Homo sapiens: one gene and its partner. The protein of the gene in region 1 interacts with the protein of each later gene in a biochemical or structural test. Each region holds a gene or a part of one and is shown on either strand. Other genes may lie near its edges.

What was found.
Region 2: the proteins of NR2C1 (region 1) and HDAC4 form a complex in vitro, tested with the Homo sapiens proteins (2 studies listed by BioGRID).

What each region holds. Positions count from the first base shown.
Region 1 is NC_000012.12:95,051,203-95,066,835, forward strand, and holds part of NR2C1 (nuclear receptor subfamily 2 group C member 1), read right to left. Parts: intron 11,686-15,633; exon of another isoform or gene 11,648-11,685; intron 11,537-11,647; coding exon 11,306-11,536; intron 8,783-11,305; coding exon 8,704-8,782; intron 7,288-8,703; coding exon 7,108-7,287; intron 6,677-7,107; coding exon 6,529-6,676; intron 6,442-6,528; coding exon 6,351-6,441; intron 742-6,350; coding exon 560-741; intron 1-559. UniProt on the Homo sapiens protein: Orphan nuclear receptor. Binds the IR7 element in the promoter of its own gene in an autoregulatory negative feedback mechanism. Primarily repressor of a broad range of genes.
Region 2 is NC_000002.12:239,108,323-239,123,955, forward strand, and holds part of HDAC4 (histone deacetylase 4), read right to left. Parts: intron 6,989-15,633; coding exon 6,731-6,988; intron 3,391-6,730; coding exon 3,204-3,390; intron 1-3,203. UniProt on the Homo sapiens protein: Responsible for the deacetylation of lysine residues on the N-terminal part of the core histones (H2A, H2B, H3 and H4).

The DNA of each region.
Region 1 (15,633 bases):
CATGATGCCACAAGTGGAAATTTCACACCTGACCTCTCATGATGGGTTGCAGTCAAAAAGCAGGTGTATTACAGTTTATTCAGTGTTTATTCCCTGTCCCCAAGGGAAAAAAGATCCTCCCAGCTGAGATAAATCTTTTCTGTATACGCCCAGACTCCCCCAAGTAAGCACGCCCACTAAGGATGATAAAATGGCACATGTACAGGCCAGACATGCCAATGGCAAGTTCCCCCGATTCCCCATGAGGAGCCAAGACCTATGTGTATTACTCACTGTGGATTTTTGCATATTCTCTTCTTTGTGGTGTAAAGATATTTTTGAAAAGGTCAGAAAGGCCTGCATGGTACCCAGAGTAATGCAAACATTCCAAAATCTGAAATCTGAAGTGTTTCTGGTCTGAACAAAGCATTTCGGATAAGAGATAATCAACCTGTATTTAGATAATCAACCTGTATTTGTTTTCTGAAACTTTTATAAATAGCATTTAACATAAAAATGTTTTAAGAAATACTGAAAGACATGTAAACAAAAGGACATTGATAATCAAAAGATACCTTACCTTGAAACATCACCGTTGGTCTGCATTTCTTGAAATTCACACAAAGAGGTATCATCATTGCTTAAGCTTTCAATCATAGACATTTCATTACTATTTTGAGAAAGATCTTTAGTTTTTCCAAGATTCGCTAATGATGTAACCACATTGGCCAATGTACTTAAATCTCCCTGACATGATTCAGCCTTTAAAAAAAAGGGTATTAAAATTCTGTGAATTGGTATCACTATTTTTTTCAATCTGAAATATCCAATTATAGATTATGATATGCCAACAAAAGAACAGTATGATAAATGAAACCTGGAAAGTTAAAGGGCTGAGCTTTCAGAAATTTACTGAGGAAAATACAAGTTTAAAAACATCAAGTGTATTTCTTAAGAAATGTTTATATGTTACTTTGTTTTTTTTTTTTTTGGGAGATGGAGTCTCACTCTGTCACTAGGCTGGAGTGCCGTGGCATGATCTCAGCTCACCGCAACCTCTGCCTGCCAGGTTCAAGCGATTCCCCTGCCTCAGCCTCCCAAGTAGCTGGGATTACAGGCACATGCTACCATGCCCAACTAATTTTTTGTATTTTAGCTGAGACAGGGTTTCACCATGTTGGCTAAGATGGTCTTGATCTCCTGACCTCATGATCTGCCTGCCTCGGCCTCCCAAAGTGTTGGGATTACAGGCGTGGGCCATCGCGCCCGGCCGTATATGTTACTTTTTTTTAAGAGACAAGGTCTCCCTTTGTCACCCAGACTGGAGTACAGTGGCACGACCACAGATCACTGCATCCTTAAATTTCTGGGCTCACTGATCCTCCTACCTCAGCCTCCTGAGCAGCTGATCCTACAGGTGTGCACTGCTATGCCTGGGTTGTTTTTTCATTTTTAGAAATGGGGTCTTGCTGTGTTGCCCAGGCTGGTCTTGAACTCCTGGTATCAAGTGATCCTCCCTGCCTCAGCCTCCTGAGTACAATTTCTAAAACTTACTATACAAACTATAAACTTGTATGGAATATGAAGAATACTAGTGAAGAGCGGGGGAAAAAATGGCAAATGAATTGTTGAACAGACTTCCTAGGATGCCAACTTTTGCCAAACATTGTGTTAATTAAATGTGTTAAAAGGCACTGTGTTAAACACAAACATTAAAAGAAATAGATCAGTTACCCATTATTCTCTTCACTTTTTTGTCACTGGAGTTGAAAACTCTCTTTATATAGGTAAGATACTGATCTATTTGTCTTTTTTTTTTTGAGACAGAGTCTCACTCTGTCACCCAGGCTGGAGTGCAGTGGTGTGATCTCAGCTCACTGCAACCTCCAACTCCTGGGTTCAAGTGATCTTCCCACCTCAGCCTCCTGACTACGGGCGCATACCACCATGTCCAGCTAATTTTTTAATTTTTTGTAGAGATGGGGTTTCATCATGTTGCCCAGGCTGGTCTCAAACTCCTGGGCTCAAGTGATCTACCTGCCACAGTTTCCCAAAGTGCTGGGATTACAGACATGAGCCACCGTGCCCGGCTTGTCTTCATTTTTTTAATGTTTGTTGAAAATGTGTATATTACTTGTGCATTAGCTACAATTCTTTTATAAAAAAGAATTTTCTCTCAACTCTTTTGACAACTCAGAAATATAATTTGTACGGGAAAGGCAGGTAAGTGCTTTATTTTTCTTTTACTTTGTTATCAATTTTCAGAGCAAGAAGCTGATATCCTAGCAATTTCTAATTATGATACATGAGTTTTTCTGAGTATAATTTTTAATTCATAGATTTTCATATATTTGATTTAAATTTATTAAATTCTTTTGTAAATCCTTTCCCATCCTAACCTAATGAGAAGCCTTTTAAGTTGCCTTCTATGGCCTACTGGGCCAACCCCTTAATGGTATCTTCTTATTAATACTTTCTTCATGGTTTTTTCTTTTTGGTGTTTTTTTTTTTTTTTTTTTTTGAGACAGAGTCTTACTCTGTCGCCAGGCTGGAGTGCAGTGGTGCGATCTCGGCTCGCTGCAAGCTCCACCTCCTGGGTTCACGCCATTCTCCTGCCTCAGCCTCCTGAGGAGCTGGGACTACAGGCGCCCGCCACCATGCCCAGCTAATTTTTTGTATTTTTGGTAGAGACAGGGTTTCACTGTGTTAGCCAGGACAGTCTCGATCTCCTGACCTCGTGATCTGCCCGCCTTGGCCTCCCAAAGTGCTGGGATTACAGGCGTGAGCCACTGTGCCTGGCCCTTTTTGGTGTTCTTAATACTAAAATAACACATATGTTCCCATGATGTTTCATTTATTATAACAATCAGTTTCTGTGAGATTTTGGTGAATCAGTAGAATAAAATAATTTTTGTGCCTTCTCCAAATTAATCAATGGTCCAAAAATCATTTACTGAAAACCCTACCAGTTATCATGTTCTTACATAATTAATACCTATATATGCATTTTATTTAACTCCCATAACAACTCTGAAATAGAAATCATCATTCCTCTATTGCTAACCAGAAAAATGACCCAAATAGTAGAGGTGGGACTGGCTGACTGCCAAAGTCTATGCTTTTTTTTTTTTTTAAGAGACAGTGTTTTTTAGAGACACTCCTATCGCCTAGACTGGAGTGCAGTGCCAGGATCATAGCTCACTGCAGCTTTGAACTCCTAGGCTCAAGTAATCCTCTGCCTCAGCCTCCCAAACAGCTGGGACTACAGGCATGTACCACCATGCCTGGGTAATTTTTTTATTTTTAGAGACAGAGTCTCGCTATGTTTCCCAGGTTGGTCTCAAATTCCTAGCCTCAAGGAACTCTTCAACTTCAGCCTCCTGAGCTGCTGGGATACAGGCTTGAGCCACTGTGCCCAGAAAAGCCCATAATGTTAAGCACTGCCCCAAGAAATTTTCTTATATTTGAATAAAAAGTACATTAGTTACAATTTTAAATGCTTTAATATTCACCTAAAACTTAGAAGCTTATATAGTCTCTTCTACCTAGCAACATATCTAACTAGATTCTTTTTTATTTTATTTTATTTTTTTATTGATCATTCTTAGGTGTTTCTCGCAGAGGGGGATTTGGCAGGGTCATAGGACAATAGTGGAGGGACGGTCAGCAGATAAACAAGTGAACAAAGGTCTCTAGTTTTCCTAGGCAGAGGACCCTGCAGCGTTCCACAGTGTTTGTGTCCCTGGGTACTTGAGATTAGGGAGTGGTGATGATTCTTAACGAGCATGCTGCCTTCAAGCATCTGTTTAACAAAGCACATCTTGCACCGCCCTTAATCCATTTAACCCTGAGTGGACACAGCACATGTTTCAGAGAGCACAGGGTTGGGGGTAAGGTCACCGATCAACAGGATCCCAAGGCAGAAGAATTTTTCTTTCTAACTAGATTCTTAAGTTTTTGCCCCTAAAGGCTCTTAGCCAACATAGAAAACTTTCATCTTGTGACTTCAGAGTTTTGGGGCAATTTATCAGAGAAGCTTACCATACGGTTGTCATAACAATTTAATACAAAGATATACAAGAGAGCACAGTGTCTGGGCAGAGTAGTTTGTCAAGGAAACCTAGTTCCCTTCCTTTCTTAAAGGAGTTAATATGTCAGTAAAACCAATTATCATTCTAACCTTGAATCATGCAGACAGGGCTAAGTGAAGTTTTCCAAAATATATGGCAAGAGGCCACTGCCTCACCTAGCAATTACATGCTAAAGCCCAAACTGTAAGATACTTTTATTACTCTTATTTTACAGATGAGAAAGTAAGGCACTAAGAGGTCAAATAACTTGCCTAATGTTATATAGCTAGTAAGTGGTAGATGAAATTTGATTTCCGAGCCTAAGTATTTAGAGCGCCTTAAAGCATCAAGTGACAAATATATAACAAATCTTGCATAAACAGGACAAATAATCTTATAGGTTATATAAAATCAGATCCCGGCCGGGCGCAGTGGCTCACGCCTGTAATCCCAGCACTCTGGGAGGCTGAGGCAGGCGGATCATGAGGTCAGGCGATTGAGACCATCCTGGCTAACATGGTGAAACCCTGTCTCTACTAAAAATACAAAAAATTAGCCGGGCGTGGTGGCGGGCGCCTGTAATCCCAGCTACTTGGGAGGCTGAGGCAGGAGAATGGCGTGAACCCAGGAGGCGGAGGCTGCAGTGAGCCGAGATCGGGACACTGCACTCCAGACGGGGTAACAGAGCAAGACTCCGTCTCAAAAAAAAAAAAAAAAAAAAAAATCAGATCCCAGCTAGGTAGGGAGGCTCATGCACATAACCCCAGCAATCTGGAAGGCTGAGGTGGGAGGGTCACTTGAGCCCAGGAGTTCGAGACCAGCTGGGTAACACAATGAAACTCGGTCTCTACAAAAATAGGAAAAATTAGCCAGGCACAGTGTCACGTGCCTGCAGCCCTAGCTTCTTGGGAGGCTGAGGTGAGAGGATCCCTGGAGCCTGAGAGGACGAGGCTGCAGCAAGCCATTACTGTGCCACCACCGTACCCCCAGCTTGGGTGACAAGAGGGGACCCTGTTTAAAAAACAAACATGGTTGAGAGAAACCCTGATCATAGGCTTCCTAAAATCTGTTTTCAGATATGAGTTTTCAGGAGAAATTTTTGCTTCTTGTTCTCCCAAAGGGCTTCTGACAAGTACAGAAACTCTTCATGTTCAATTTAAATAAACAAACTGTTTTTCCTTTAGACCCTTGGTCTAACATAGAGCTGCTCCAATCTCTAAGAGAACTGGATGACTTGGATACATAAAAGGAGAGCTCTTGCAGTCCTATTCCTACTCTTGACTCAAGTAAATATTTTGATGGAGGTGAGCTAAGAATTTCCTTTTACCTGAAATATTTTAAGTATTTTGGCACTAAAAAATAAAAAAAGTATTTTGGCACTAACAAATCTGTAAGGGAGCATAAAAGAAATATTAAGAATTGTACGGCTGGGCGTGCTGGCTCACGCCTGTAATCCCAGCACTTTGGGAGGCCAAGGCGGGTGGATCACGAGGTCAGGCGATCGAGACCATCCTGGCTAACAAGGTGAAACCCCGTCTCTACTAAAAATACAAAAAAATTAGCTGGGTGTGGTGGCAGGTGCCTGTAGTCCCAGCTATTCAGGAGGCTGAGGCAGGAGAATGGCGGGAACCCGGGAAGCGGAGCTTGCAGTGAGCCGAGACTGTGCCACTGCACTCTAGCCTCGGCAACAGAGTGAGACTCCATCTCAAAAAAAAAAAAAAAAAGACTTTTACACCTATAATAAATGTCTTACTGAGGACTCGTATTTCAAGATGAGGGAAGAGTACGTGTTTGTTGCTTTCATGTTGAAGGGATAATCATCCTAGTGAAATTATGAACATTTCTGATTTTTTTTTTTTTTTTTTTTTTTGAGACAGAGTTTCGCTCTTGTTGCCCAGGCGGGAGTGCAATGGCACTATCTCGGCTCACTGCAACCTCCACCTACCGGGTTCAAGCGATTCTCCTGCCTCAGCCTCCCGAGTAGCTGGGATTACAGGCATGCGCCACCACGCCCAGTTAATTTTTCCATTTTTACTGGAGACGGGGTTTCTCCATGTTGGTCAGGCTGGTCTTGAACTTCTGACCTCAAGCGATCCATGTGCCTCGGCCTCCCAAAGTGCTGGGATTACAGATGTGAGCCACTGTGCCCAGCCGAACATTTCTAATTTATATTAAAAAAAAAAAGGCAACTTGTAATATGGAATATTTAAGAACAAAGCAATTTACCAAAGCAAAGGAAGTGATTAGAAAACATTTTAAAATGCTTAAAATTATCTAAGCTTTAAATTGTACTAAACACACCTTATCTGATGTCATCAGCACAGCTGACTCAGTTTTTACTCCAGATGGATGAATATTCATGAACATTCCTGAATCTAACAGTCCTGTTGACCTGTAACAAATCAGCACAAATTTTGGCCTGAGTTTCATTGGGAAGAAAAACAAAATGACCAGCTACTCAGTGTCTGTTTTACTTTACCTTGTACTTTCACTATCTGTTACAAAAGTTGGAGTTGCAGTTAATGGGCTACGAAGGTCCTTTCGGATATAGATTTTTTCTGTTGAAGCGGCACAGTTGGAAGATTTTTCTCGTGATACTTCAATGGGTTTTCTTTCACATTGGACAGCTACAAAAATGTGTTAAACTATTATATCACAATATAGGATTTACAGACAATTAGAAATGTAAGCTGTAGGTAAGCTTAATGCTGCTAATAGGAGACATGGCTACCATACTAAACTCCAAAGATAACCATCAATCTTTAGAAATTATGTGCAAGTTCAACAAAGTTGCTTTAGATTAGTAAAACAAACCAATTTGCATCTCTCATTCTTTTTGCCAAACACAAACTACAAATACGTGCTTTTTACACAGGTATTCAATAAATATTAGTTGAATAAATAAAAAAGTACATACGTAGGTCTGTATTCTTATATTTTTAGTTGGAAAACTGTAAACTAAAAAGTATACATATTTGACATATTTTGTTAATTTCAATACTCTTGTAGTTTGCTGGAATCTTTAAAAAGTATTTTCTCCTTAAAAGCTAATACATACAGTCTTGCTTCATTCCAAACGCAATACATCTCTGTAACCTGCAGTATTGACAGCGGTTTCGGTGGTGCTTATTAATAATACAATCCTTTGATCCTCGACATGAATATACTAAATTTTTTCGGATGCTTCTTTTAAAAAATCCTTTGCAGCCTTCACAAGTTACTGCTCCATAATGACGTCCTAGAGAGAAAATGTTTAAGAAAATATAAAAGTCACATTATTTCAGAACAGAAATGACATAAGCCAATTTCTTCCCTTTAAACAACATATAAGATGAAACTGATTTTTGAGCTTCTGACATGAAAAACATTTTTAGAAGTTATTTTTATTTATCATAACTTTTTTAGAGACGGGATCTCGCTCTGTGGCCCAGGCTGAAGTGTAATGGTGCGATCACAGTTCACTGCAGTCTCGAACTACTGGACTCAAGGGATATCCCCAACTAGCTGGGACTACAGGCTTGCGCCACCACACCCGACCAGTTTTATTATTATTTTTTTTTGTAGAGGCAGTCTTGCCATTTTGCCCAGGCTGGTCTTGAACTCCTGGCCTCAAGCGATCCTCCTGCCTCCACTCCCAAAGTGCTGGGATTACAGGCATGAGCCATCTCACCTGGCCTAATGTAATATATTATTAAAGATCAGAAGTCATTATTTTTAAATGATTCCTTTGCCAAAATTTCTAGTTTTCACATTAAAAAATGTTTCTACAGCTGGGCGTGGTAACTCACGCCTGTAATCCTAGCACTTTGGGAGGCCAAGGCAGGTGGATCACTTGAGGTCAGGAGTTCAAGACCAGCATGGCCAACATGGCAAAAGCCCGTCTCTACTGAAAATACAAAAATTAGCAGGGCATGGTGGCACACGCCTGTAGTCCCAGCTACTCAGAAGGCCGAGGCAGGAGAATTGCTTGAACCCAGGAGGCAGAGGTTGCAGTGAGCCGAGATTGCACCACTGCACTACAGTCAGGGTGACAGCGCAAGACTCCATCTCAAAAAAAAAAAAAATTTTTTTTTTACATGTTCACTTTCAAAAGTGAAATATGCATTTTATTTCATTACAAATCATATTAAATTGCACTGAAGTTAAAAAATATAAGTGAATAAAGAACTTTGGGACCGGGCATGGGGGCTTACACCTGTAATCCCAGCACTTTGGGAGGCCAAGGAGGGGAGGGTGGATCACCTGAGGTCACGAGTTTGAGACCAGCCTGGCCAACATGGTGAAACTCCATTTCCAATAAAAATACAAAAATTAGCCATGCGTGCTGGCATGCACCTTAGCCCCAGCTCCTTGGGAGGCCGAGGCAGGAGAATTTCTTGAATCCAGGAGGTAGAGGCTGCAGTGAGCTGAGATCACGCCACTGCATTCCAGCCGGAGCAACAGTGAGACTCTATATCACAAACAAAGAACTCTGGGAAAAAATTAGTTAAATGTTATAGGCTACAAATATGAACCATAAAAACGACATACTCCTTTATTTCTCTTCTTACTTTTAGTAGAAGAAACATGGTAGTGTGGTAGTTATTTCAACAACACGACACATATAGGAGGTTATTTTTTTTTTCTGTTTTTAGGAGGTTATTCTTAATGTTACCTGATGCTTTGTCTCCACATACTACGCAAAGATCAAAAACCTTATTTGGTCCTTGGTCTGGAGAATTATCTGTTAGGAGCTAAAAAAAAAAAAAAAAAAAAAGAAAACAAAAACGAAAACCTGTTGTTACTCAACAGCACTCATTCTATTAAAAAAATTAAAGAACATTCAGTTGGTCTTGCTTTGTTGCTTTCTTTTTCACAAGTTATTTTTAAACTTTGTACTCTATGAAGAGCTCAGAACCTTTCCACATGTAATGACGACAAAAATAAGCTTATAATGGCATAAAGAGATAACTCTAAACCTTTTAAATAGAAAAGGGGCTATAAATAAATTTCCTTGAGGTAATTATAATCATGCAGATGTGCTCGCTATACAAAGGTATGGACTTAAAAAGCTCATCACTAGGCACAGCTAATAAGATACTGGCAAAGGAAACTAGTTTCTTCTTTAAAAAACAAAAAAAGGCTGGGTGCGGTGGCTCACGCCTGTAATCCCAGCACTTTGGGAGGCTGAGGCGGGCAGATCACCTGAGGTCAGAAGTTCAAGACCAGCCTGGCCTACGTGGTGAAACCCTGTCTGTACTAAAAATACAAAAAATTAGCTGGGTGTGGTGGAGAGTGCCTGTAATCCCAGCTACTTGGGAGGCTGAGGCAGGAGAATCGCTTGAACCCAGGCGGCAGAGGTTGCAGTGAGCCGAGACTGCACCACTGCACTTTGGCCTGGGAGACAGAACGAGACTCCATCTCAAAAACAAAACAAAACAAAACAAAAAACAGCAAACTAGTTTCTTCCTTTAGGTTTATCTTTCAACCTTTTCATCATTTTCTTTCAATCTTGAAATGTGAACAAATAAATTCAATTAAAGAAAATGGAATGGCATTTGAATTCCTCCAGGAATACTTCTGATTTTATGAACTTTAAATGGTTCTTAAAATGACTGCCCCTTACTATGTAATATATAGCATCATTTCTTCTTATATCACCACAAAAATCAGTCTTCAGTAAGTACTTAAGCTTCTGGTACTAGATGTCCTATGAAAGCATCTATGGCAAGTATTACTCTTTAATAGCCTACCTGTTGCAAATGGTGCTAATCTTTTATCTATTATTCCTAAGTCTGGAAGGAGATATTGAGAGATTAAGGGATTTACCCACATTCATGAGAAAAACATCAGACCAAGTCCAATAGTGGCACATCCTACAATATACCTGGCCAGTACTCCTCACGTAATTGTCAAGGTCATCAAAAACAAGGAAAGTCTGAGAAACTGTCCTAGCCAAGAGAAGCCTCAGGAGACATGTCAACTCAATGCAATAAGGTATCCTGGATGGGATCCTGGGACAAACAAAGCCATTAGGCAAAAACTAAGGAAAGTCTAAACACCTATAAACTTCAGTTAACAATGTATCAGTATTGCTCATTAATTATATCATGAATGTAAAATGTTAATAATAGGGGAACTGTGTGTATTTACGGGGGAGTAATATGGGAACTCTGTTCTATATGCTCAGTTTTTCTGCAAATCTAAAACTATTCTAAAATATCAAGTCTACTACTTAAAGAAAAATTAAGGTACATATAATGTTATACATTTTTTTGTGACTTTTGTCTTGTTGATAAAACAACTTCTTATAAATCTGTGACTGTATCCACTTTCTACCTTTATTTCCAAAACTAATACAAATATCATTGGATGAATAGATGATATCAGGATATACAGACAAAATTTCGTGTTTTATGAATTCAGAGTTTTTCAATCCAAAGAGGAATTTTCTTTCGTGAGTTTTTCATCATAAAAGATAGAACCCAATTTTAAGTAGACCCCCTTCAAAAAGTTTCTGAAGGCAAACTTCAGAGTACATTATATTTGTATTCAATCATAGCAACCAGCAGTGAAAACATCGACATAACCACAGGCATGTGGTGTATAAAAGTTTTTGAGTCTTTGAAGAATAATGTGTAATTTTCTATTCTAGCGAAAACTAAAATGATGTAATGTTAACATATACTACTTCATTCCAGAGTAAAGCAGGAGCCCATGACTGCACTGCTTGCTATTTCATGAAGATGTGCATGACAACAAAGGAGGCACAATGTTGAAGCCAGCAGCTATAGTCCAAACTTCTTGATTTGGCAGCTTCCTGTTTGTAGCACAGGCAGCTTGGTTCTGGAAAATACAGCTACAAAAGCTGCTCCTGATTTGACAATTTCCTAATTATGAAGTAGGAGGTCTCTTAGAAGCCAGTTTTGCAGCATGCTCCAATAGTCGATCTTGAAAACCTGGCCTAGAACTGTTTCTTCAACCTTCCTAACAATTCTGCAAGCTCTCTGTATCCTTTATTAAAGGCTGTTGTCCTGGCTACAATAGCCAGAGTGGATCTTACTGTATGCAACAAAGAATCCCCAAAATATATGAGTGTGAGGAAAGTACAGTGGCCCATAGGAGAGGGCTGTCACTGTAGATACTGTGTTACACATAATTTTATGCATTTTTTTCCTACTGAATATACATAGATCTAAAGTCTTCATGGCAGGGCTTATGATTAAAATTTTTTTTTTATATATGTAAGAGGAAAAGACACTTCTATAGTTATTTACCTGCAGGTGTTGTGCAGACAGATCAGGAGTGGTAAAAAATAACTGGTTGACACCTGCTGCATCTGGAGTTGTAAGGAAAACTTTTCCCGGAGTGGAATCTTGCCTGGCCAGAATGACTTTGCTTGGAGTAGAGCCGTCGTGATTTGTCAGAATGAACTGCTTGCCTTGGGTATTATGATCAAGTGCTGTCACAATCTGGATTTTCTGCCCAGTTTGCTGCTCTGTAACAATCTAACAAAATCATGAAAAATAATCAATGAAACTCAATAATTTTTCTTTAATGACACAATTATCTTCTTAGAAAAGCACATTACATATATATTCAATATAACACACACGTACCTTTTAAACTACCGATTCTATTGCCACAAAATTCTATCCTACAGAAATAAACAAATGTGCAAACAAAGGTACAATAGTAAGAACATTTTGACCTCACTATTTTGATTCCCTCCTTCCCCTTCCCTCCCATGTTCCATTTAGACAAACATATATTGGGTGATTTATATTAGCTGTTCTGCATACTGGGATGTAGCAGTGAATAAAACAAAACTTTTGCCTTCATGAAGCTTTTATTTTAGTGGGGAAAGACAGATAATAAATAAGCAAATAATAATATTGTCATGCGGTACTAAATGCTATGAAGAAAAACAAGGCAAGGTGAGACAGTAACAGAATGAGGGCAATGAGGGAAGCTCACGCTAAGGAGGTGTCATTTTTGCAAAGGCCTGAGTGAAGAAACAGACCAAGGCTTAGGACTACCTAGGGGAAGAACATTCCAGGTAGAGGAAACAGAGCATATAAGTAGGTCCCAGGGCAGGAGGGAGGTGTTTGACACATGTGAGGCACAAGGCACAGCAATAGAGATATATGATGAGTAAGACAGAAGGGAAGACAGGGATTACAGTAGAATATGGGATCTGAGTGACAGCTGGGACTCAGAGGGCTTTGTAGGCCAAACAAAAGTCTAGATTTCCTAATGTGTGAAATGGAGAGCCACCAAAGGGTTTGGAGCAGAGGAGTGACAGGATTTTATTTTTTAAAAAGGAATCAGACAGGCACAGTGACATTATCTATAATCCCAGCTACTTGGGAGGCTGAGGCAGGAGAATCACTTGAGGCCAGGAGTTCGAGACCAGACTGGGCAACACAGTGAGACCCTGTCTCAAAAAAAAAAAAGAAGTATAAAAAAAGCATTCTAAATTTAGTGTGAAGAACAGACTGCAAATGTTCAAGAGTAGGCCGGGTGCAGTGGCTCACGCCCATAATCCCAGCACTTTGGGAGGCTGAGGCAGGTGGATCCCTTGAGGTCAGGAGTTCAAGCCCAGCCTGGCCAAAATGACGAAACCCTGTCTCTACTAAAATATAAAAATTAGCTGGGCATGGTGGCGGGTGCCTGTAATCCCAGCAACTGGGGAGGCTGAGACAGGAGAATCGCTTGAACCCTGGAGGCGGAGGTTGCAGTGAGCTGGGATTACACCACTACACTCCAGCCTGGGCGACAGAGGACTCTGCCTCAAAAAAAAAAAAAAAAAAAAGGGGATGGACACAGTGGCTCATGCCTATAACCCCAGCACTTTGGGAGGCCGAGGCGGGCAACTCATGAGGTCAGGAGATTGAGACCAACCTAGCTAACACAGTGAAATCCCGTCTCTACTAAAAATACAAAAAATTAGCTGGGCATGGTGGCATGTGCCTGTAATCCGAGCTATGTGGGAGGCTGAGGCAGGAGAATCACTTGAACCAGGGAGGCGGAGGTTGCAGTGAGCTGAGATCGCGCCAATGCACTCCAGCCTGGGTGACACAGTGAGAGTCTGTCTCAAAAAAAAAAAAAAAAAAAAGTTCAGAAGTAAAATTAAGGGAGATCAGAAAGGACACTACTGCAGGTACCATCAATATCTGGTTATGACATATGGGCAGAAATACTGACCAGGAACAGGGTAGCAGCCATGCTGGGGGTGAAAAACAATTAAATTGGGATTTACTTACTTATTTATATATTATTTATTTATTTTAAGAAGAGAGAAGTAACAAAATAATGCTGATAGACTGAAGGGGAATATGAAGAAAGAAGAGTCAAGGATGATTATAAAATTTTGGCTTGAGCAATTGGGAGGACAGAACTGCCATCTGCCATCTGGGGGGGAGGAACAAGTTCATGAATACACAGAACTATTTCAGCATTGAGAGTTTCTGTTATTCAGCAAATATATCCCAGATTAAACATCATTAAGCCAATTAAATTCCTTGATTCAATTTTAAAATGGCAAAGTCCGTTTGTTTCTAATTTTCCAAAATTCCAATCCTGTTCCTTCTGTACCAAATTTTTTCTATTTTTATTTTCCTGAAATTATTTCAAGATTCTTTTCTATGCAAAATTTAAAACAAAGTTCTGATTCACTAATCAGTTTATGTCTAAAGCAAATTGTTTGGATAAAAGACTAATAGTTCATACTGACTTCTTAGAGAAGAGCATTTGGCGCATTCATGGTCCAACTGCTCCTGGGTTGAAACATTCTGCTTAAATGAGTAAAAGGACATTACTGCAGCATAATAATTGTAATAATTGAATATTTGGGCAATCCAAAGAGCCTTCAATAGAGAAGAGTAGTAAATTATGTAAACAGTTCTTAGCTTTTAGGACTCTTTATATTCTAAAATATTACTGAGGGTTCCAAAGAGCTTTTTTTTTGAGATGGAGTTTTACTCTTGTTGCCCAGGCTGGAGTGCAGTGGTGCGATCTCGGCTCACTGCAACCTCTGCCTCCCAGGTTCAAGCGATTCTCCTGCCTCAGCCTCCTGAGTAGCTGGGATTACAGGCGCCCGCCACCCCACCTGTCTAATTTTTTGTATTTTAGTAGAGATGGGGTTTTCTGCATGTGAGTTAGAAATTCAAAGAGAAATTTTAAAAATAGTTGATTCATTTAAAAATTAACAACCCATTAAATGTTAACATAATTTTTTTAAATTTATTTTTAATTTTCGTGGGTACATAGGTGTGTATTATCTTTGGGGTACGTGAGATGTTTTGATACAGGCAGGCAATACATAATAATCACATGGAAAACAGGGCATCCATCCCCTCAAGCATTTATCCTGTATGCTATAAACAATCCAATTATACTCTTTTAGTTATTTTAAAATGCATAATTAAATTATTATTGACTGGGCGCAGGGGCTCACACCTGTAATCCCAGCACTTTGGGAGGCTGAGGTGGGCGGATCATGAGGTCAGGAGTTTGAGACCAGCCTGAGCAACAAGCTGAAACCCCATCTCTATTAAAAATACAAAATTTAGCTGGGCGTGGTGGCAGGCACCTGTAATCCCAGCTACTCAGGAGGCTGAGGCAGGAGAATCCATTGAACCAGGGAGGCGGAGGTTGCAGTGAGCCAAGACAGCGCCACTACACTCCAGCCTGGACAACAGAGCGAGACTTTGTCTCAAAAAAAAAAAAAAAAATTATTGACTATAGTCCCTCTGTTGTGCTATCAAATACTAGGTCTAATTCATTCATCCTATTTTTTTGTACCCATTATAACCTATTTCTTAATGACTAAAAAGTTTATTTTCCAAACAAACAAAAATGTAGTGCAGAGAGTGGCTTTGTTTTACATTTCTACAAATTGCTTTAATATCTAGTTTAACAGAAGTTGGAATCTCATATCTGTTTCTTTATTTAATCTGTTAGACTATGTTGTTTTGGTTATAACAAGGCTGGGCACAGCACCTCACGCCTGTAATCCCAGCGCTTTGGAAGGCCAAGGCCAGTGAACTGCTTGAGCCCAGGAGCTCCAGACCAGCCTGGGCAACATGACAAAACCCTGTTGCTACAAAATATATAAAACATCAGCCAGGCACGTGAGCACAAAAAATGGCCACAAAAAATCAGCCGGAAACCTATTTCTTCACCATATATATACATATACATACATACATATATGTATATATGTTAAAGAAAATTCAGCTTCGTATTTATTGGTTGAAAAGGGGAAGGATATTTTAATACCCTTTTCAAACTGTGAAAGTTGTTCGACACTACATCAACTCAACAAGTGGCAGCTTTTCAAAGGTTAGCAGCAATGTAGAGTCATAAACTATATTAAAATCTGTTGGTCTATCCTGCAATTTAAATGGATCCTTCACTCATGCATAATTTTGTAACATTATACACTGGTCATCCGGAAAGCAATGATTCATTGAGTTATGTACACCTTATAAATGCTGACACATTTCATCATATAGTATCATCACATGTCACACAGTCTGTAGAAAATTCCATTGTATACCTGGGAGAGAACAATACTGAAAAGGCAAATAACATTTCAGTA
Region 2 (15,633 bases), on another chromosome or scaffold:
ACCACGTTTGCCAAGACTCCTTGACTGGCCAGGCCCAGAGAACGTGGACGAATGCAGAGGCCAGGCGGGTGGGAGGGCCTGCCTGTCACTCATGCTCACAGTAACGCCCCAGGACCCAGGCAGGGACGTGCGCAGCTGCCCTGCTGCAGCAGGCTGAGGAGAAAACAGTGATGAGGAGGTCTGCCCTGGGTGGCTGGACCTTGCAGGGGTGAGCTCTATGTGGGACTTGTGCTGGGGAGGACGGTGCTGACTTCTAGAAGGAGGCGACTCTAGCCCCCTACCCTCAAAGTCTGCCTGGTCCTGGACCAATAGTAACTCCAGTTCTGCTGGACGGAGAACTGTCCAAGGTACTTGAGATTCCAAAGAAACACCAGATTCGAGCTCTGCCTTTAGAAACTTCCAGAGGGACTGGAACACATATGCTAGAAAACACACGCAAAACCCATGTACACAGGTCTACTTAACCTCTGACTGTGAAAAGAGGCCAGCCATGTGCTCACCACAGCACTGAGCTCAGCATGGACGGGCCCCCAGGGTGCGGCAGCCACAGAAGAGGCTCCTGGTGGGGGCCCCAGAACCAACTGGGCCGGCAGCCTGGGGCTCTGCAGCAGGAAAGGCAATGTGCCTGAACCCGTGTTGGATGCCACCCTGTCTCAGTCAGCATACGTGGGACCGCTGTGAAGGGGAGAGTATCTGACCTGTCTGCAGAGGCTAGAGATGCGAGGGAAGGCCAGGTGGCCCTCCGGGGCACAGCTCTGCCCCGGCCCCTTCTCACCAGGCCTTGGCCCCTGGTGACACCTGGCAGGAGGGCTGCCCCGAGGCCCTGCCGGGACATGTCTGTGCTGCACACACCTGGTCTTCCAGGACTTAACAAAGGGAAGGCCAGGCTGGGTGAACAGACGCCTTCCGCAGGCAGGTCACTGGCCAGGGGCACCTGTGCTAATGTGGGTTCATCCAGGCTGATAAGGGCGGGGCGCACGGTGAAGAGCCTGGGCAAGCTGCCCAGACAGACCTGCTCTATTGCTTCAGTGTGCTGGCCCAGGATGCGGCCCTCCCCACTTGTGTTCCTATTACTGGGAACACAGGCAGCATCCCCAGCCAAGGGGAGCTGAGATTCAAGGTGGTCCAGTGTTTGCAGGGTCCAGCTACAGGATACACTTGGTGCATATTAGTTCCCATACTTCCTGGCTCAGCCTCTTGTGAGTCAGGCTAACAGGAGTCAGTCTCCTGCACTTGAGGAATTCTGGAGGTACTTGCACAACAGTGCTGTGGGATGGGACTTCTGGTAAAAAAAAAAAAAAAGCATCAGGGTAGGTGCAGGCTTACAGGAGTCAATGAAACTAGGACTCACAATCAGTACACTGTGTGTGGGCATGGCTGTGCTTGGGAGTTTGTAATGGCAACACAGACACATAGGCAATGACGGACACTGCCCCGTGAAATACGTAAGTGTGTGTGCAGAAACAACCAGTTGCTCACGGATACAAGGAATGGGGACTGCCCCTACAGTGGAATCATCATGATAAGGTCACGTGCGCTAATATTTACTAAGCACACGGCTGGAACTTACGAGGCAGACACCTGCTTTACTGCCTTTACAGACAGAAAAGCTGGAGCGTAGAGAGATGGAGAAGCGGCAAAGCCCACACAGCTGAGGGTGGCAGAGCCAGCCAGGAGACCACGTGGCTAAAGGAACGCACTGCGTCGCTGTGCACGGACACGGGAAGATGGCTGAGAGTGTGAGGTACTAACAGAAAGCATCAGACACAACAGAGTCCCGTCTCTGTGAAACAAATTATGTTTGTGTCTATCTGTCCATCTGGCTATGCACAGAAATAGATCTGGAAGGTTTAAAGCAAATACTAACAACCTGCCACCACTGGGGAGTGGCATTACGGGCAAACGGCATTTCCTGTGGGTTTCTATCATGTTTTTCTTTACAATGAACATGTACTGTTTTATAAATTTGTTTAAAAAGTAATCAAGACAAACTAAGAAAGGACACCAACGAAGCGGGACTCCCTGCAAGTCTCCTGGGACCAGCCAGGGTGGGCCAGCTTAGTGGGAGGATTCTCCTTGGTGGCGGTGACTGGGGTCTCCCTTGTCTGAGCTGCATTCTTTCAAGAACACACTTATTGCAGTCAGCTGCCCAGGACTTGTGGAGTGGGTCATCTGGCTGCTCCTGTGACCTTCCATGGTTTTCTTTCTGAGAAGCAGCATTTTACTTGCTGGATACCTACTCTGGAAATTTGTCTCTGAATATGAATAGCATCCTTCTAAGACCTGAGAGTGAGAACCTCGCAGACTGCAGAACACTAAGCCACGTGATGAGAATCATCTGAAGAATGAAGCCGTGCTGTATTTACAGAACATTTTTCTTAGTGCGTCATTAACAAGAAATATTAGATCATAACAACATGAAGAGCGCTCCTGCCTCTGTGCTTGTCTCAGAGGCAAGCCCTGCCAGAAGCCAGCCCTCCTTCCCTCCTCTCCCCTGCAGGGGTGGCTGGGTGGCGGGGCGGCCCAGGACAGCAGTCTCCTCCCCGGCTCTGGCTAGCTCCAGGCAGACAAGTCCAGGGCCCGGCCCCTCCTGCCTCCTCAGCCGTGGTGGACGCCTTACTTGCCTCCTTCTTGTGAGGGAAAACCAAGGACCCCTGCTGGCAGATCGCCTCCCCGGGGTGAGGATGGTATGAGGGATGGCACAGACAGAGGACGTGTGGCTCCCACAGCGTGTCCCAGGGGTCCCGGGCTCTGCTCTCGTGTAATCACAGCCCCCCGCCAGCCATTCACAGCCCTGTCACTGGAGCCTCAGCGTCAACGCTGTGGACGTGGGCGAAGTGTGAGGGAGTAAGCGGAGAAGCGTGGGCTCATGATTCCTGAGCCGGACCAGAAGCTGTAGGTTCTCATGGCCCCACGGGCATGGGCTGTGGACTGTTCTTGGAGGAGACCATGGGTCTCTGGGACAGGAAAGTGGGCAAGTGAGCCCGTGACAGGTCCCCAGCATGACAGAACTGAAGGTGTGGGGTGTAGGGCGGGGAGAGGGCCTCTGTGACAGACCTGTGTGGTCCCCACCATCCAGCGTGGCCCTCGTGCCTGCCCAGCCCCTCCTCAGCCTCTGCAGAGCTGGGCCGGGAAGAGCCCCCCGCGCTGTGCCCACTGTGGCCCGCGTTGCACCCTCAGGCTGCACAAAGGCCACGTGTTACCTGTCGTGAACCTCGGCTTGGTGGGGGGCTCCTGCACAGACACGGGGAAGGTGGCAGACGCGGGTGAGGACTGCGCCCGGGACAGAGGCCTGTGGCCGCCGAAGGACACGGGGATGCCGGCGGCCTCCATGGACGCCTGGTAGTTCCTCAGCTGGTGGATCCGCTGCTGCTCCAGCAGGAGGGCTTGCTGCGGGGAAGAAACGGCCGTGTTGGCGGTTGCGGATGTCTCCCGCCCCTGGGCTGCAGGGCTAGGGGTTGCCCTCTCTTGCAAGTCTCCCGTCCACGCACAGGCCATACATGGGCCACAAGGATGCCGGGAGGCCAGCTGCGTGGAGAGGCCTTCCCTGTGAGTGCCCTGAAGCCTGAGTGGGCCCAGAGCCAAGAACGAGGCCAGCACAGGCTCTGCCTCCCAGGACGGTCTCTCTAGGGAAGGCAGGCTGTCCACGTGGGATCCTGCCATGGGTTACGTTAACAGGATAACACAGGTTGAGTCAGGGGGTCCCAGGGAGGCCTGGCCCAGTATGGGGTATCAAGGAGGGCTTCTCTGAGGAGGTGCTGAGCCAGGAGCAGCCTGGAGCAGGTGCAGGGGAGTAGGGCCTGGCAGGTGTGGAGAGAAGCTCTTGCTGGGGCGGCAGCCTGGCCCTCGCTGGTTTCACTGGGGGATATGCGAAGGCCATGTAGATGTGGGGACCACAGCGTCCACTCTGCCATACCACACACATACGGTGAGTGGGCACGAAGCCCAACCCCCTTGTTGGGTTTGTGGGTCTTAGTTCTGACCAACAGCATTGAATCTGCATGCCAAACTTGGGCGAGAAAGCACCATCGGCTCTCAGACTTGAAAGTGCCAACTGGGCTTCATCTGCAGCCGCTCCCCTCCCTGGTCTCACATCCCACACACCCTCGTGCAGGCTAAAAGCAGTAACAGCCCATCAGCTTCTGGGCACCCAGGACCTTTGGGGCCTAGAGCAGGCCTGCTGGTGGGGATGTGCCTCTCTGATGAGATGGAGCTGGGCTGGGCTCTGTGTGTGGGGGGGGCACTCAGCCAGGGGCCTGGGACACCCTGAGGGATTCTGGGAACAGGCTGAGGTGCAAACCCCCATACGAGGCAGAGTGGAGTGGAGGGAGCAGGGCAGAGATGAGGTCACAGCTGCCAAGCCTCTCCCCAGACAGCAGCTGAGGGAGAGCACAGCAACCTGCCACCCAGGCCGAGGCACAAAGAAAGCCGGGCGCCTCCTTGCTGGGAGCTCTGCGCCAATCCTGTCTTAGTTTTGATGAACAAATCCTGTGAACATGGAAAACCAGGTACCTACATCCCAGCTCCTGTATGAAGGCAGAGCCCAGCCCTGTGCTGCCAGCACTGGGGGAAACCAGAGCTACCCGGCCAGGCTCCGATCTGTCCTGCCTTTAGGAATCAGGCTGGGCGTGGTGGCTCATGCCTGTAATCCCAGCACTTGGGGAGGCTGAGGCGGGTGGATCACCTGAGGTAAGGAGTTCGAGACCAGCCTGGCCAAAATGGTGAAACCCCATCTCTCCAAAAAAACAAACAAACAAAACAAACAAACAAACAAAAAATTAGCCAGGCGTGATGGTGGGTGCCTGTAATCCCAGCTACTTGGGAGGCTGAGGCAGAATAATTGCTTGAGCCCAGGAGGCGGAGGCTGTAGTGAGCTGAGATGGCACCACTGCACTCTAGCCTGGGCAACAGAGTGAGACTCTGTCTCACACACACACACACAAAAGGAATCAGAGCCAGGAGGGAGCAGAGAAGAAGGAAGCCCTGAGACAGTGGGAGGAGCTGCAGCAGGAGCTGGAGCAGGAGCCAGCACCCACAGGCCCCCAGTCTGCTGCTGACCAAATTCAGCTGGGATTGCCGTGGGCCCCACGCGGTTAAGTGGTTAATAAGCAATCCTCCCCGACGCGGGCTGGAGGTGCCCCGCCTTATGTTTACCTCGGCAAATTGCTCCGTGTACTACGACGTTTCCCTGATAAGGGGTTCTGCCTATTACTCTCCAGAGAGAACAGAAAATAAGTGTTTCTAATAATCATCTCATGCTTGGAATATAACAAGCCTCTTTTTCTCAAAGTAAAGGCTGATCTATGAGAAACTAGCCCTAAAAATTATTAATGTAAATAGTTTCCCATTTCTTATCAGCCTAATAATAGCACACTGAATTTCAGATCTTCATCAACTTACAAGGCCCGACCACAGGAAGAGGCCCCCACCCTGGGCCTGTCGGACAGGACCTGTGGACGAGTGTTCACCATGAAGCACCGTGTGTGTGCCAGAGAGGCCCGGGGCTTTCTCTCTCTGTCTTTGCCAAGCGTTAGTTCTGCTGGGCTTTGTAGTGTTTAGTGCCCGGGGTGCTAATTAAGAAGGCCCAGAAATTAGAGACAGGCCCCCCTCTGAACAAGAAGGAGAAATAGCACCCAATGCCAGCCACTGGGGGAAGCTCGGTGGAGAAGGGCTCCTGACCCAGAAGCCTCTGGAGACCACTGAGCACTGATCCCGTGTGTGGCAGGCTTGGGTCTAGGTGCTCCAGGTACAAGGCCCCACACTGATTCATTCAGTGGCAAGCATTTAAGAACTGTAGCTGAGAATTAAGGGGAACAGTTTACTGCAGGGCGTCCTGCTCCTGGCTTCCAAGGTGCTGCTGGGGGTGGAGATGCAGCGTCTGGCCACACAGCTGGCAGTCAGGAAGCTGGGGAGGTGCTCAACGGCACGGCCGGCATGGAGTCCAGAGAGAAGGGAGGGAACGAGCCAGTGGCTCCTGCAGCCGAGGCAGCAGCTCTGCTGCTGGAGGATAGAATCAAATCCTACAGAGCTGTGGTTCCTCGGACTGGCTTCCTGCCTACAGGGAGGAAGCCACTTTCCTGAGGGCACTCTAGCTGCAGATACGGGGCTCCAGCTGGCTGCCCAAATGCCTTAGGTATTTCTGCTGACTCAGAAGTTTAATGTTTCAATGGAAATTAACCAGTCATTCACTGGCCTTCTTCATCAGTCTCCTGTGAGTTTGGTTACTGGGTGTCAGTGCCCTGAAGCCTTACTGGCTCTGGGTGCCACAATCGCACCCGTCTGTCTGGATCTGCAGGGCTGCTCATTAGCACCTCTGGGTCACAAAAGGTCTTGACTTCTGATCAGGCCCTGCCTGCCTTTTTGATCAATTAATACCTCTAGTTCCTTCACTTCTTTAAAAAGCATGCTGTATCTCACTAACACATGGATTCTGTGTTCATTTACAGCCTACAGACAGGAAGGAAATCCATTCTCTGGGGCCTGCGCATGGCTGGAAAGCAGTTACGTAACCACCCACAGGGGGCAAACATCTCGTATCCCTAGGAACGGCTGGGACAAAATGGAAGCCACATCAACCTCCCTCACTGGCCAGGACAAGACAGGTGAGACACTGGACAGTGACCGCGCAAGGATGCCCTGCAGCCCCCGTGATCACCACAGAAGATGCCACCTGGGGACCGAGGGTGGCTGTGCGTGCCAGCCTTCTGGTGCCCTCCCCGCCTGCGGTCACCTGTCTGAAGAGCAGCTCCTGCTCACTGGGCTGGCGCTGGCCCGGCTCCACCTCCCGTGGGGGCTCTGCCTCTTCCTCATCGCTCTCAATGGGCTCCTGCTTCACCTGCACGCCGGCCTGTGCGTGCGCCTCCTTCTGCCCCGGCAGCCGGTCCAGGTAGGGCTCGTCCAGCAGAGCCTGGTGCTCACGGAGCTCCTCCTCCGTCTCCTCCGGGTGGCTCTCCGGCTGCCGGGCTGGCTCGCTTGGCTTGGGGATGATCTGCAAGGCGGAGGTAACACATGAAGCACAGAGAGCTGGGTCCTCTGAGCTCATCTGACAGGAGAAGGGATGCTGCAAACCCCACCCTCTGGGGCAGACAATCAGGGACTCAGGGCACCTTATCACCCTGCCACAGGCCAGCAGGCACCTTTATCTCCCAACAGGCACTGGGGTGCCTGAGTGCCTAAGAAAATAATGCCCAGTAGGACCCCAGCCCAGGGTCAAGGTGACCTGGCCCAGGGAAGGAGGCTGACTAACATTTGGGGTTTACTAAGCACCTCTTCTGTGTCAGGCACCGAGAAACAGAAAAGAAGCTGCAGGTGTCAACAGAGTCTGCAGAGGAGAGCTTGAGTGTGAAGGGGAGAGGCCAATGCTGACCTCACAGCCACAACTGCTAAGAGAAACAGCCCACCACCCACTCAGCGGAAGACAACCACGTCCACAATGCTCACTGCCCAATCCCACCAACACGCCACGGCCTCCCCTCCTGCAGGATCCCACCGATGTGCCATGACCTCCCTCCTGCCGGATCCTGGGAACACTCCAGGACCTCCCTTCCTGCTGAATCCCAGGGATGCCACGGCCTCCCCTTCTGCAGGATCTCAGGGACACCATGACCTCCTTTCTTGCAGGATTCCATGGGTGCTCCATGACCTGCCCCGCTATGGGGCCCCAAGAACCGCAACATCCTCCCTCCTGTGGGACTCCCTAGATGCCCCCGACCTCTTTTCCTGTTGGATCTCACGGACGCTTCTCGGTCTCCCTCCCCGGCCTCTCAGTGCGGAACAGGCGGCAGGTGCTCCTCTCCTGCTCCCCGCCTGCTCCTCCGTCTTGGTTTGTCCTGGGCCTGCTCCTCGGCTCATTTCCCCATTCTGGATTCCAAGTATCAGCGACTCCCAAAGGTGGTGCTGAGCCCAAACTCGCTCTTTACCTCCAGACCTAATGGCCTGCCAGACGCCTCAGCTTAGCCTAGAGTGCCCATGAGCCCCAGCACAGCAGGTCCAATGCCGAACGCAGGGCAGCTTCTTCCAAGCCTCTCCCTTCTCTAGGACCTGTTCTTGGCTATTGGGACCTCTCTCTGGCCAGCTGTCCAGTCACACCCCAAGCTCCCAATTCTGTCCGCCAAGCACTGCCCATGCATTGCTCACGAGAAACGCCTCTGGACGGTGCTGCTTCTCTCCAGCCTCGACCTCCTGCCTTTCCTGCTTTGCCCCACCTGGCCTCTCCTGCCTGGATGACAGCATGGCTCCTGGGAGGCCCCCACCTCCAGCGTCAACGCTTTGCAATCTTCTTCATGTAGCAGTGAGGGCACGCTTTCAAACGGGCCAGTGGACCTGGTCACTCCCCTGCTGAATGTCCCCCAAGTGCTCTTCTGCCATCCTGCCTCTGCTGAAGAGCCCCTCCATCGTGTGGCCATGTTGCCCCTGCAGCCTCCCTGCCACCCTGCTCCCGACCACGCCGCTGGCTCTGCATCCCTCATGCCACACTCGCCTCCAGCCCGCTGCTTGCCTTCCTTCCTCGGCCTCCAGCCACTCCAAGAGGCTTTGTGAGCCTCCCGTGCATGTCACCTTTTCCAGGGTCAGCTGATCTTCCTGATAGGGCAATGTGCCCTCCTCCAGCACCCCCCGACCCCAGTCCTCTGGCTTTTCTGTGGTTGCCATTCATGTATCCATCTTTCCTGCAGTCTGCAGTTCCCAGGAGGGTAGGGACCACTTCTGACTCATCCACGTGGCACAGGCATTGCTCATCGCACATTCACTAAAAGGATGGGGCAAATGCAAGGGGTGTCCGCGTAGTGGGGCAAAGTGGAACAGGGTGTATGGCTGACCTCAATGCGCTCTGGGAGCTGTGGGAAGCCAGCAGGGCTGCAGCGTGGAAGGCCAGAGAACAGGAACACAGGGTGCCGGAGACGAGGTGGGGCTGTGGGAAGGGCACTCTGGGCTGAAAACAAGCAGGTGCACGTTCTAGAAGCATGCCCTGCTGCAGACAGGCCAGAGGTTGAAAGGGTGAGGCCAGCCCCACGTCTGGCTAAGGCATGGGAGAAAGAACAGGTTTCCATGACACCAAAAAGGAAGCAGCTCTAGGCCCAGGGACAGACTGCATATGGAGAGGCAAGAGAGGGTGGCCAGGACAACTCCTTCGTTTTGGGCAATGGAGCTGCCCCATCACATCTGGGAGCCAGAAAAGGGATGAATGTGAGCAGAGCAAAGGCTGGAGTTGAGAACAAGAGGGGAGAGAGGGATGCGGGAAGTGGCAAAAAAAAAAAAAAAAAAAAAAGCTCAGGAGAGAGGGCGGGGGTCTGGAGTTAGACTAGGAAGGGCGCACAGGGAGTTTCTCAGAAGAAGGCACTGACTGAGCTGCATTCCTCTGCAGACTGTGAAAGAACGTCCCACAATCCCAAAGTCCCAGATCGAGGGGTCTCTCCGGATGCTCGATTCATCTGTCCCCGTGGGGAACGGCCTGAAGGGCAGATTCGAGGGACGGTGGGACAAGCCGAGTTCCTGGCAGAGAGAGGAGCTACAGCGCGTGGAGGATGGATCTCGGCACCGCATCCGACTGTTTCCAGAAGGAAACTGAGGTGTGCAAGGAAGACTGACACCTGAAATCCCCCGAGCCCTTGCATTTCAACACCCTTAGAGCACTGCATGCTGCTCCACACTCACGCGAGGCGGCCTCTCCAGCAGCCTGAACTACGGGGCACGGGTTGGTGGGCACTCAGTGTCCGCTTGCTCCCAGGGGTCAGCCGTATCAGACGACACCGGTCCCCACGCAGCAGGGCTGAGACGCAGACTCACACACACACAACATGGTGAGTTTTCAGCCTCCAGAGCCCTGCTGTGCCTCACTGTGGAACATCAGAGACTTCAGATTGGGCGGGGGGTTTGTTTTATGATTGATCATCCCTTAACTTTCTTTCTAAGAGCAGTTTAAAGTACGGCAGTAAAAGCCGAGTGAAGAAAACGCAGATCCATTGTTTATCTCTAAACCGAAGGCAGCTTTTCTTCAGAAAAGCTTTCAACCTGGCACAGGGAAATGGAGCCAGGTCCAGCCGGGTGCAGGCAGCGTGGGTGTCGGGGCGGGCCGGCCATCGGCAGTGTGGGAACCAGTAGGCGGCGTGGCACGTAAGGAACTCAGCTTCAGAAAGCCAAACTCGCAGGGAGGAGAGTGCAGCGGTGGGTGGCCGCGCGTCGGGAACAGGAACGTGCTGTCCACGGGTGAGCGTGCCGTTGGGAGAGGAATAAGTTCCGGGACCTGATGCACAGTTTGGTGGCCCCGATATTCACGGACCTTACCACAGACACAATGAGAGCCCCGTGAGGCCAAGGGGGCATGGATGAGGTCCCTTGTGGCGATCATTTCACAACGCATACAAGTATCAAATCATCACGCCGTACGCTGTAAATACATGCGACTGTTTCCGGTTAGACTTTCACAAAGCCGGGGAGAAACAAGTTCAACTAAGGAATCTAGCAACATTGTCCCCATTTGCTCTGACAGGTTTCTCAGTGGTTGACCAAAAAAAGCATGTGTTTCAACACTAGTTTCACTTGATGATTTTGAGGTCTGTGATTGCTTCTGGTTTCTCAGTCCCATCTTCTTCCTGCACACTGAGAGCCTGAGAGGCCCTGTGGGGGGCAGGGAGAACAGGGAGCCTGGCGGTACCGCTGTCGCTGTGAGCAGGGGTGCCAGGTGCAGCAGGGGCGCCGGGTGAAGCAGCGCTGTTTCACAGGGGACCTCGAAGATGGCATCCAAGTCTTGGCTTTCAGGACACTCATCAAGAGGGCACCCATACGCTCAGTTCCTGCAGCTCCCCCAGGGCCCGGTGCAGTCTGATGTGTAACGGGATGTGACTGACTGAGTGGTGTATGGGAGGTTTCTTGAGAGCGGGGCCCTTATCACTCGGTGCACCGGAGGGAGAGCAAAGAACAAAGAATCTGAAAGCAGAACAATTCCCTAAGAAGGTGGCACAGAGCGCTGAGGACAATGCCCTGGATGAGGAGCAGGAGGGATTCGGGAGGAGGGAGAGCAGCAGCCAGGACGGGCCTTCAGGAAGCAAGAATGTCCTGGAGGCTGCAGGTGTGGAAGGAAAAGCAACAGGCTAAGGATGAGGAGACAGGGCTCAGACCACAGGCTGAGGACATGGGGACAGGAGCTCAGGGCTAAGGGTGCGGGGACCAGAGCTCAGGGCTGAGGGCGCGGGGACCAGAGCTCAGAGCTGAGGGTGTGGGGACCAGAGCTAAGGGCTGAGGGCGCGGGAACTGGAGCTAAGGGGAACGGAGCTCAGGGCTGAGAACGCAGAGATGGGAGCTCAGAGCTCAGGGCTGAGGGTGCGGGGACCAGACCTAAGGGCTGAGGACACGGAGATGGGAGCTCAGGGCTGAGGAGGTGTTCAGGGCCTCAGAGGGCTCCTCACAATGTGGGCTTTGCTCATCAGTGGATGGGCAGGAGAGGCTGCGGGTCTCTCCGAGGGGTGCATGGTCCTGCCTGTGCCACAGGAAGGTGCTAATGAGTCAGCGCGAGGGCAGGGGAATGCCTGCAGAGAAGCGACTGCACAGAGGCAGCAGGGCCGGGCAGAGGCTGGCACAGAGGCTGGGTCCAGCGGCAGTGGGGACCACCCGTGGACAGGAGAGTGAGCAGGAGGCACCAGGACTCCTGGCCAAGTGCCAGAGAAGGCAGTGGGGACCACCCGTGGACAGGAGAGTGAGCAGGAGGCACCAGGACTCCTGGCCAAGTGCCAGAGAAGGGCCACCACAGAGGAGGTGCTGGCCCCGGGACGGGGAGGTGGGTAGAGGGCAGCTCAGAGAGGCTGAATCCCAGCATCCGGTGGGGCCCTGAGAAATCCAGCAAGAAAGTGCAGATTCGAGTCTGGGATTTGGGAGACAGATCAGAACTGGAGCAGTACGCAGGTGGAATAAAGTCAAAGCTGGGAGCACAGAGGAGCTACGCAGAGCTGGGGAGCTGAAGAAACAGGGATGAGGCCTCAGGGACCAGTGGTAGGGTGTCGGGAAGCAGGGAGGCCACAGAGGCTCACATACAGATACATACACACACAGATACATATACCCGCAGAGGCACACACAGACGCACACAGACACACACACACAGACACAGACAGATGCACAAATAGACAGACATGCAGATACATATACACATGAAGAGACAGATACACAGATACACAAATACACATAGGCACAGGCACACAGAGACAAGGAGAGGAGACCAGAGGGCCAGCAGAAGGGTGGGTACAATGCCAGGAAAGGGCAAGGGGAGAAGGAGGAAGGTGGGGGAGGGAAATGGGGGGGCGGGGAAGGGAAATAGGGGGAGGGGTGGGGGAGGAAGGCTAGGACCTTAGAGGGGACCCTGTGGGGCTGCCCCATCCCAGCAATGACCGAAGTGGTGTGCCTGCCTTTCTTTAGCAGCCCAGGGGCCATTCTGAAGTGGATAAAAGTGATGGAGGGCAGCAACCCCATAGAGGACACAGAGGCAGGTCCCTTCTCTAGGGTGGGGTGGAGGACAAGGCAGCTGAGGGTGGAGGGGAGGGGTTCCTGCAGCAAATGGCCACTCCCAGGAAGCCAGGCTGATCGAGGAAAAGGGTTTGTCTGTTTGCCTTTTAAAGGAGACGGCCCAGGGAGGACTCGGTGGACACAGAAGCTCCAAGACTTTTCTTCTGATGCTTTCCTTTAAATTTCTTTTTTTTTTTTTTTGAGACAGGGTCTTGCTCTGTTGCCCAGGCTGGAGTGCAGTCATGCATTAGGCAGTCCTCCCACCTCAGCCTCCTGAGTAGCTGGGGAGTACAAGCATGCACCACCTTGCCTGGCTAATTTTTGTAGAGACGGGATTTCACCAGGTTGCCCAGGCTGGTCTCGAACTCTTGAGCCAAAACGATCCACCCACCTTGGCCTCCCAGAGTGCTGGGATTACAGGTGTGAGCCACCATGCCCAGCTTTAAATTTCAAACTTAAAGAAAAACTTCAAGAACTCTGTAAGAAAATCTCAAACGTCCTTCCCCTATGCACAGATGAATGGCGGTGGAGGTAGTGGGGGTCATAGCGGGGGTCAGCCTCTCTTCCTGGGGGGCTGTTTCAGGGGCCCCAAGGCCACTGCAACCTGCCTGCCTGAGGCTTTCGGCAGCCGCGTCTACCGTGCTGTGCATCAGGAGACCTCCCCACTGTTCCAAGGGCTCTTGGATGGCCCTTCCCCGGCTGGCTGCGGATGGCGTGTGCTGCCAGGGGCCGCATCTCTTTAGTGTCCTTTAGTGACAACATTCCCAGGTCTTTTTCCTCCCTTTCACGAGGATGAAGCCTCTGAAGTGTCCCCCGCTGCCGCACGCCCCTCGGCCTGGAGGAGGGATCATCTCCACACCGTGGGCCTCCGGCGAGGGCTCTCAGGCAGGGCCTGAGGAGGATGTCACTTTGGCAGTGGTGCCACGTCAGAGCCCTCTGTGACGCAGGCCAGGCCCCTTGCCTTGGCACTGACGCAGGCGCCTGTGGGTCACCTCCCTGGGCCATGGCTGCAAACAAAGCCTGCTTCTCTCTCTCTCTCTCCTTTGACATTCAGTTCTGAGTCTCACTGGCTGGGCTGTGGGCTGGGGCTGCACTGCAGAGCTGGCTTTGGGAGGTGAGCCGGACGCGGGCAAACAATTGAAGCAGCTCTGTGCAGCCCGAAGGCCTTGGGGACACTGAGAGCCCCTTTCATCAATTCAGGAAGAACAAATGCACCTCCATATTTGGAATAATTACATTTTTAAAAAGTCAGGCTGGAGTTCACGGCCAAAACCGAACTGGTAAACTGCCAGTATTTTAAAACAATCGGACACACTCGTAATTAGACCACCCAAAATATGAGTCCAAGTTTTCATATTCAAAACCGAGGATGTCAAGTTAAAGGGAAACACACCCGAGGCCCTCCGCTCTGCAGGAGGCAGGTTCTTGTGCAGAGTCCAGAAACCATGGGAAGAACCACCTTGAGAAGCAAGGCTTCTTGCTGTAGGGGTGGAGGACACCTTCCAACGAACGTCCTCTTTTAATAGAAAGAGGTATTTCGCCTGGACACACATCACCCACTGCTCGCAAACCAGACATAACTGAGGCCAAGTCCGGACGTGGCCAGCGAACACGGAGGGCCAGTTTCACCTGCAGAGTTCCAAGGTCCACTCGCCCTCTGATGGTGTGCGTTCTCCAGAAAGTTCCTTCATGCAGCAAACCCTTATAAACACCACTGCATACAAGGCACGGGCAACAGAAGCTGACACAGTTGGAAAACATCTGCCACCATCCCGACCACAGGCTGGGGAGAGGAGAGCAGAGCCAGCTCGGGGTCGATCCTGTCCACCTGGTGGAGTTTTCTCAGCCAAAAGGGGCAGCTCTGCAGGCTGCAGGCCTCGGGAAAACTAGAGTGGCTACATATGGCTGCAGGGAACACCAGGGCTAGGCACGGGCCGCCTCTCTTTCTTTTTTATTCACAGTGATGTTTCCAAAACAACTGCCCTCTAAGGTACAGGCTGAAGGAGGGGCAGACCAAGCCGGCCCCAGCTGCAACCCCAATGTAGGCTGGAGCAGCGCAGTGGGACAGGAGGGTTCACAGCTGCCAGAGCTGGGCAGATGCCCTCAGGGAACAAGCCCCTGGGGACGTCATCCTCCAAGAGGAAGGGCCGGGACGTCAGTGTTAGGCGGCCCTGGGCAAGATTCTTGTCTTCCTGGGCATCCTGGGAAAACACTGTCTAAACGTTTCAATCAACTGTCATTCACTCCCGTAAATCAATCAGAGAACAAACTCCAGTGAGAGTACCCGGTTTCTAAATCCTTCAAGAGTATACGGCATGTGAATAGGTGTTTCCTGTCTTCCTCAAACCTCCTACCCCATCACTCAGATAATGACATAATAAAATTAACAAACCTAAGTTGGCATTAGGAAGACGGATGTGAAAGTGCTTTTGACACCTGGGAGTAAAGATGCCTGGCAGGCGCCCGACACGCCCACAGCCTGTGCCCTTCCCGTCCCAATGAGGGGATTTGCTGGGTGCCCCATCCATTTCTGATGCGTTCCCTGCTGTCCGCTGATGAGGGCTTGGGGGTGGAGGGGCATGTGGGGTGGGGGTGGTGAGCCTATTTTGTGGTGTCCAGTGGGCAGCAGGGGCCAGGCTGTGGCCTGTGCTGGGCATCTGGTCTGACGTGGCTGCCACCCTGGAGCAAGGCCCCAAGGGGCCCATCTCCTCAATCCTGAGCCTGCAGCCCCATGATGGCTCACACACTAGGATGGATTTGGGCCACAGCCGGCTGCCATCTCCCAGGGGCCTTCCCCGACTCAGCCCCACTGGACCGGACACCACGCAATCAAAGCCTTTGACCACTGCGCCAGGGCTGAGCTGACTCCTCTTCTGGGCTGGAACTGTGGGGCTTGAGAGAAGGAAATTGGGACCAGGCAGGCAGGAGGGGCTAATGGTATCAGGAGGTCAGGGCTGCGGGAAGAGGCAGCAGTGTTGGTGGTGTAGGGGTCTCTCCCCACGGCTTTACCTCTGCTCTTGCTGGGATCCTGGTATTTCACTTTCCAACTCCTGTCTACGTGTGCTAGGAAAGTCTATCTCCTCCCCAGTCCTAACCCCAATTTTTCACCCTCAGGAAAACCACAGAAGACCCTGAGCCTCC